Linked DNA regions of Homo sapiens. The protein of the gene in region 2 purifies or fractionates together with the protein of the main gene of each other region. This does not show direct contact. Each region holds a gene or a part of one and is shown on either strand. Other genes may lie near its edges. The genes, in order: HEBP1 and GNPAT.

Evidence for each region.
Region 1: the proteins of GNPAT (region 2) and HEBP1 fractionate together in Homo sapiens (co-fractionation; one large-scale study listed by BioGRID). This does not show direct contact.

What each region holds. Positions count from the first base shown.
Region 1 is NC_000012.12:12,990,250-12,994,067, reverse strand, and holds part of HEBP1 (heme-binding protein 1), read left to right. Parts: intron 1-3,818.
Region 2 is NC_000001.11:231,268,530-231,272,347, forward strand, and holds part of GNPAT (dihydroxyacetone phosphate acyltransferase), read left to right. Parts: intron 1-2,228; coding exon 2,229-2,471; intron 2,472-3,782; coding exon 3,783-3,818. UniProt on the Homo sapiens protein: Dihydroxyacetonephosphate acyltransferase catalyzing the first step in the biosynthesis of plasmalogens, a subset of phospholipids that differ from other glycerolipids by having an alkyl chain attached through a vinyl ether linkage at the sn-1 position of the glycerol backbone, and which unique physical properties have an impact on various aspects of cell signaling and membrane biology.

The DNA.
Region 1 (3,818 bases), on a different chromosome or scaffold from region 2:
ATATTAATCTCCAAATCTGTACCACCTGGCAAAGGTTTTCGACAATGTTTATTCCATGAATTAATAAAGTAGTGACTGAACGTCCGGTTGGGTGATCTGTGACCACCTCAAAGTCAGCTTGACCTCCCCAAACATGTTATCACATACACCCATGCCCCATAAACTAACCTAAGTGGTCCTTTCCTGTGTTCCCATACTGCCCTGGCACTCCTTGCCCCCTAAAAATATCATTAGATGATAACATTCTGTTTTCCTGGCATCTTCCCTTATAGCACCTGTAACAATGTTCAGCACATGGTAGATACTCAGTAGTTGTTGGTTAAATGAATAAAAGAAGAAAAAGACCAAAGGAAAGAGCCAGTTAGCTCTTTCTCCAGTGAGATCTTGTTTTTGGTCTTCCCATTTGTAAAAGAAGTAACTGCGTAAAATGACTTCTGATACCTCTATTCTGAATTTGATATGGGCATACAACTGTCCGCCCAAAGTATCTAACACAGTGGCTAAAGAGAGAGGTTACAGACTGGGCAACATTGCAAGACCCCATCTGAAAGAGAGAGAGAGAGAGAGAGAGAGAGAGAGAGGAAAAGAAAAAAAAAAAAAGCAAAGACACTTTGGAAGGCTGACATAGGTGGATCGCATGAGCTCAGAAGTTTGAGACCAGCTTGGGCAACGTGGTGAAACCCTGTCTCTACAAAAGAAGACAGAGAAAACAAAATACAAAAAAAATTAGCTGGGCATGGTGGCACACACCTGTAGTCCCAGCTACTTAGGAGGATGAGGTGGGAGGATCACGTGAGCCCAGGAGGCTGAAGTTACAGTGAGCCAAGATTGTACCACTGCACTCCAGCTTGAGCAACCATGAGACCCTGTAAGAAAGAGAAAGAAAGAGAGAGAGAGAGAGGAAGGAAGGAAGGAAGGAAGGGAGGGAGGGAGGGAGGGAGGGGGAAACGAAAGAAAAAAAGAAAGACAGAGAGAGGAAAGAAAGGAGGATAAAGAAAAGAAACAGAGGTTTAAATGCTCACTTCACCCCCCATAGCTTTAGAGAACCTTGCAACGAGTATTAGACTGGAGTAGACTAGAGTTTGGGAACTGGAATTTTTGTTTCAGTTTCACCATTCAGTAGTTACATCACTTTGAGCAACTTAGTCTCTCTGGTTCTTCATTTTCTCCTTGATAAAATTAGTTAGATTAGGTAAACTTTAAAACCATTTTAGGTTCTGAACTTCTGTGATTCACAGGATAGTGTTTCTGGAATTTAAAACATTACAAGTGCCAAGGGTAGGTGCGCTCTCAAATGAAAGGGGAGTTCTGGAATTCTCTGCAGCAACAGAAAGAGCAAAACACCCTAAGTTTACTTAACAGTTTGCTACTGAAGGCTCTTTGGAAGTGTCAGATTCACCAGATGGAGGGCTTCACAGCAGCCTCAGAATGATTCAGCACGGTGCCCCACAGTCAAGGCTGACTTGCTGCCTCATGATTCCTGGTCTGGCGCAATTTCCTCTACCCCATGTGAAGGGGGATTTAAGTACAAACTTGGCACTCAGGGTTAAAATTACAATATTAAGGCCGGGCACAGTGGCTCATACCTGTAATCCCAGCACTTTGGGAGGCCGAGGTGGGCAGAACACCTGAGGTCAGGAGTTCGAGACCAGTCTGTCCAATGTGGCAAAACCCCATCTCTACTAAAAACACAAAAATTAGCTGGGAGTGGTGGCGTTCGCCTGTAGTCTCAGCTACTTGTGAGGCTGAGGCAGAAGAATCACTTGAACCTGGGGGGTGAAGGTTGCTCTTAGCAGAGATCACACCACTGCACTCCAGCCCGGGTGACAGAGCAAGACTCTGTCTCAAAAATAAAATAAATATTAAATATGCTCATTGAGACTACACTTGCCACTCACAGCCGTACAGTCCTGCCTTCCTCCAGAGACACCTTCTGTCCCCCTGGGAGTCACACCCTCTTCCCTAGTTGTGAATCTTCAGTCTAGGATATTATATGAAAACCTATTTGACCAGTCTAGGGCAGCCAGGTTCCCTACCATGTGTCTGTTTTTCATAATCATTGTTAGGAGACACAGCACCTTAATCAAATAAATATCTGTTGCACTTCTCACATGTAAAGCTCTGTGGTATAGTTTCTGCCCATAAAGGCTTTATTGCAGATTGTTAAAACTATAATAATGTTTCATTACCAGATGGTAAAATTAACATAGACCAACTTTCCTTCTTCTAATGGGATGGAATAAAATTCACTCCAGTAGAGTAGAAGAGAAGAAAACAGGATAGGGGAAGGAACAAAAAAAAAGCCAGGATGCATCTCATCCATAAGGGTAAAGCATTACTTTGTGAAACTTTAACTATGTGTATATTCATGATAAGACAGGCTGTAAAAAATGCTTTCCTTCTTGTGGATTGTGATTTTTTTTCAAAATGTGAAGAACACTGCCTTACAGTATGTCCAGGAATACAAAATTAAATTATATGAGCAATCACGTGGCAAGGAGCAGGAGATGTACTGAAGGAGAGCTGTGGGGGTCCATAATGAGTAAACACCAGGGAAAGGATAGTCCAAGGACAGGGCCTCAATGCAGAAAGTGGTGATGGGGAGATGAAAGAAGGATTTGTGTGAAAAGAGACAGTGGAGCTGAGCATTAAGCAGATTGGGAGGCTGTGATTTAGTGAGACAAGAGTTAGGGAGAGGATATGCTGTGTCTGGGAGCACGGTGTGAACAGAGCTACAGTCAGCCCTTCCTGTCTGTGGGTTCTGGATCCACGATTCAACCAACCACAGATGGAAAATATTCAAAAAATAATAATAGCAATACAGCAATAAAAAATACATAAATCAACAGCAGAGGCCAGGCGTGGTGTAACTGCCCAGTGGGTTCACCTTGCCTGCTGCCTAGATAGAACCAATTTATCAAGACAGGGGAATTGTAATGGAGAAAGAGTAATTCATGCAGAGCCAGCTCTGCGGGAGACCAGAGGTTTGTTATTACTCAAATCAGTCTCCCTGAGCATTCAGGGATGAGAGTTTTTAAAGATAATTTGGCAGGTAGTGGCTTGGGGAGTGGGGAGTGCTGATTGGTCAGGTTGGAGATGGAATCATGGGGGGTGCCAAGTTAGGTTTTTCTTGCTGTCTTCTGTTCCTCGGTGCAATGGCAGAACTGGTTGGGCCAGATTACTGGTCTGAGTGGTGTCAGCTGATCCATCGAGTACAGGGTCTGGAAAATATCTCACGCACTGATCTTAGGTTTTACAATAGTGATGTTATCCCCAGGAGCAATTTGAGGAGGTTCAGACTCTTGGAGCCAGAGGCTGCATGACCTCTAAATTGTAATTTCTAATCTTGTAGCTAATTTGTTAGTCCTGCAAAGTCAGACTGGACCCCAGGCAAGAAGGGGGTCTTATTGGGAAAGGGCTGTTACCAATTTTCTTTCAGAGTCAAGCCACGAACTGAATTCCTTCCTACAATTAGTTCGGCCTAAGCCCAGGAATCCCACAAGGACAGCTTAAGGGTTAGAAACAAGATAGAGTCAATGAAGTCTGATTTCTTTCACTGTCATAATTTCCTCAGTTATAATTTTTGCAAAGGCAGTTTCAATTGTGGCTCATGCCTATAATGCCAACACTGGGAAGCCAAGACAGGAGGATTGCTTGAGCCCAGGAGTTTGAGACCAGCCTGTACAACATAGGGAGACTCTACCAAAAAAAAAAAAAAATTTTTTTTTTTAATTAGCAGGGCATGGTGGTATGCACCTGCGGTCCCACTTACTCAGGAAGCCTAAGTAGGAGGATCGCTTGAGCTCAGGAGGTCGAGG
Region 2 (3,818 bases):
CTTGGGAGGCTGAGGTGGGAGGATCACTTGAGCCCAGGAGTTCGAGACCAGCCTCAGTAACATAGTGAGACCCCATCTCCAAAAAAAAAAAAAAAAGGCCGGGCGTGGTGGCTCACACCTGTAATCCCAGCACTTTGGGAGGCTGAGGCGGGCGGATCACGAGGTCAGCAGTTCCAGACCAGCCTGACCAACATGGTGAAACTCCGTCTCTACTAAAAACACAAAAATTAGCCGGGCATGGTGGCGTGCACCTGTAATCCCAGCTACTCGGGAGGCTGAGGCAGGAAAATTGCTTGAACCTGGGAGGCAGAGATTGCAGTGAGCCAAGATTGCGCCACTGCACTCCAGCCTGGGTGATAGAGCGAGATTCCGTCTCAAAAAAAAAAAAAAATTGTACAGGCTACAGTTGGAAATGCGTTTTTTTTTAAAGACCAGATAATTATTTGAAGTCAAGTACCTACTGTTCTTTGATCAACCCAATACTGAATACCTCCTCTGTGCTGGGTACTACCAGGGATATGAAGATGAACAAGATGCCATCCCCATCCTGGACGTTCCCCTGGGTTGCAGAGGGCAGGGTGGGTGGGTAATGTGTAAACAAGTTGTGAGGGTTCAGTGAACAGAGACAAGGAGCAACATGCATGCTGCAGAGGGTTCCTGAGAGTGCTGCAGAGGAAAGGGACCATACTCAGGAAGACTTCACAGAAGCGACTTTTGAACCCTTCAGGAAGACCAGGAGAGGATCCTCGCCAAGGCAGGGATGAGGAATGCAAGATGGGAGGCTTGGGCCCCAGAGATTCATCAGTGATATTAAAGTGTTGGCCCAGATGGGGTGGTGGGTAGATGGAAAATAAAGATGGACCTCCCCGCCTCCTCCCCACCATCCACCATCAGAAGACTGGAGGTATAGAAACAAGTTAGGAGGCTGCTCTGTCCCAATGAGAAATGCAGGATGCCTGAGATGCCTGAGCCGCAGCAGTGGAGGCACTCAGGGCACAGCCAAGAGATGAGGAGGATTTACTGACAAAAATGCCAGTCACCAAGAGAGAGACAAATCAGACACCTGTTCTCAGTGCTGTGATGGGCTGGGTCTGGTAGGAGGCAAAGGATGTGTTAATTATGATACAAGTAGCAAGTGTTGGATGTCATGAGAAATAGCTAAAAGGGCTCAAACCCATCATTGTTTGGCCCAGGAACATATGAAAACATAGGTACTTGTTTTTCTAAAGTGTTTTGCTTTTTCAGGATGGGATAAATGCCATAACTAATCCATAACTAAGAGTATCTGTTCAGTGTCACTACAGTTCTGTTCCTTTTTTCTTTTTTTATGCAGATTACCCCACATTCCTAAGCATGTTCATATCTCAAGCTTTTTATGATCATTTCACATAAAATATTATTCAATTGAGCAAGCTGAGACAAGGCAAGTTGTTCAAGAATGAATGTGATCAAGTCCAGGAGGAAGCCATACCTCTCACTTGTCCCTGCCTTGAAGCAGTAGCAGAACTTGCCACCCAACTTGAGCAGTGTGCCACTGCCAGCCAGCTCTTTGGCTCAGGTTAACTGCAGAATAATTTTCCGTGCTGAGAATATTTGTTAAATATCACCATCTCTTCATTATGCTTCTGTAATTCTACCTGCCTGGCAGCTGTCTGCAGGCCAATATGTCAGGTGATAAGCTACCAACTGCCATGGAGCTGCCCCTTTAGTTATCTTTGATTTGGGGAAAACTGCAAAGTGATATTTTTACCATTTTAGTATGGGTCTAAGCAAGGGGTGTGTGTGCATGTGTGTGTGTGTTGTATGTTTTAATGTATTCATACACTAATCATGGGCCTTTTTCTTAGTATTCTTACATTCCCGTGCATGTGACTTTCCAGTTATGTAACTTGCTGTTAGAAAACTTTAGATTCCCTTGGTTCCTGAAGTACACAGAAGTGGTGTTCATTTTCAGAGTAGAAACTGATGTGCCTTTCAGAATGGCTGACAAATTTTGGGGGTAAGAAAGTATGTTACATGTCCTTAGAGAGAGAGAAAGAATTGATTTATGAAATAGTACTTTTAAATTTTTCTTCAGATTTGGTATCATTACCGTAATTGGTAGACAGTAAAACCTGTCACTTGAAAATGAGCATCTGTCACGTTACCATTAATAACGTTAACGTACGCTAGGCCTAAGACTCCCTGCAGTGACCCATCTTGTTTGAATGAATTGTCTTTGTGTGTAGATAATAAACCTGCTGAAGAAGTTGTCCCGGCCAGCATTCTTCTGCATTCCAACATTGCCAGCCTTGTCAAAGACCAGGTGATTCTGAAAGTGGACTCCGGAGACTCGGAAGTGGTCGATGGGCTTATGCTCCAGCACATCACTCTCCTCATGTGCTCAGCTTATAGGAACCAGCTGCTCAACATTTTTGTGCGCCCATCCTTAGTAGCAGTAGCATTGCAGATGACACCAGGGTTCAGGAAAGGTAATTTTCAGGAATGCAATCTTGACTTTTAGAAGAGGTCTGGCCATTCCATTCCATTTAGGGAGCCACATTTGAAGCCTTGTAATGTTCAGCCTCACGCCGGTGAAGAGCAGGCCTATCACTGAGAAAAAGTTAGCTTTGTTCCCCAAATACTTGTTCATCTGCTTCGAATTTTGGAATTGGGAGGACCTGGAAATAATCTAAACCTTTCCTTCTATAAATATGGAAAATGAGGCCTAGAAAGTTGCATAATTACTGAGAGAAGGATCTGGCATTTGAGTACAGTTCTCCACTTCCTGGTCTGCGGCACTGTTTTGGCTGTGCCAGCTCCCTGATCCAGCAAAGGCAGGTGGGCAGATGAGCAGTCAGCAGTCGATGAGTACTCCCGAGATGCATGGTCTTGTTCTAATTGTATCAGGAGTATAAAAATGAGTACAGTACACGTCATGTTCACAGGAGCCTGTAGTCAAGGCCAGGGGGTTCTGTCAAGGCCCTATGTTAGAATTACTAGGGGAGTGAGCCCCACCCCAAAGTTTCTTCAGTTGACCTGGGGTATGGGCCAGCCATTGGTGTTTGGTTTTGGTTTTGGTTTTGGCTTTTCAAAGCTCCACAGTGATTCTAAGGAAAAGTGCTACAGATATAATAAAGATACCAGGAAATATGAATATAGAGGGAAATTAAGAAATCAGTACCTTTCCTTCCCTACTAGGGAGCCATGGGGTAGGGAAAAATGAAGCGTCCTGGCCTCTAAGGACTGTGATGTCTCGCTGAGTAGAAGCCTGGTTGTAGGTTAGAGTCAATCATTTAAAAACTATGCTAGGGCCGGGCGCAGTGGCTCACGCCTGTAATCCCAGCACTTTGGTAGGCCGTGGTAGGAGGATCACGATGTCAGGAGTTCGAGTCCAGCCTGACCAACATGGTGAAACCCTGTCTCTATTAAAATACAAAAATTAGCTGGGCATGGCGGCGAGTGCCTGTAATCCCAGCTACTTGGGAGGCTGAGGCTGGAGAATCGCTTGACCCCAGGAGGCGGAGGTTGCAGTGAGCCAAGATTGCACCATTGCACTCCAGCCTGGGTGACAGAGCGAGACTCCATCTCAAAAAACAAAAAACAAACTATGCTAGACCGTAGTTTGCTCTGTGGGTAAGATTTGGGTTTAATTTAGCTTCCCTCAGGGGACTTAATTCTTGTCCCTGTTACATGAATAAAATATGCCTTTGAAATACATTTTGTGATAGTAAGGACTTCCTGGTACTCCCTTAAAGTTTAAAGGGCAATGTTGTAATTTTACATGATGCATTTATTTCCAGAGGATGTCTACAGTTGCTTTCGCTTCCTACGTGATG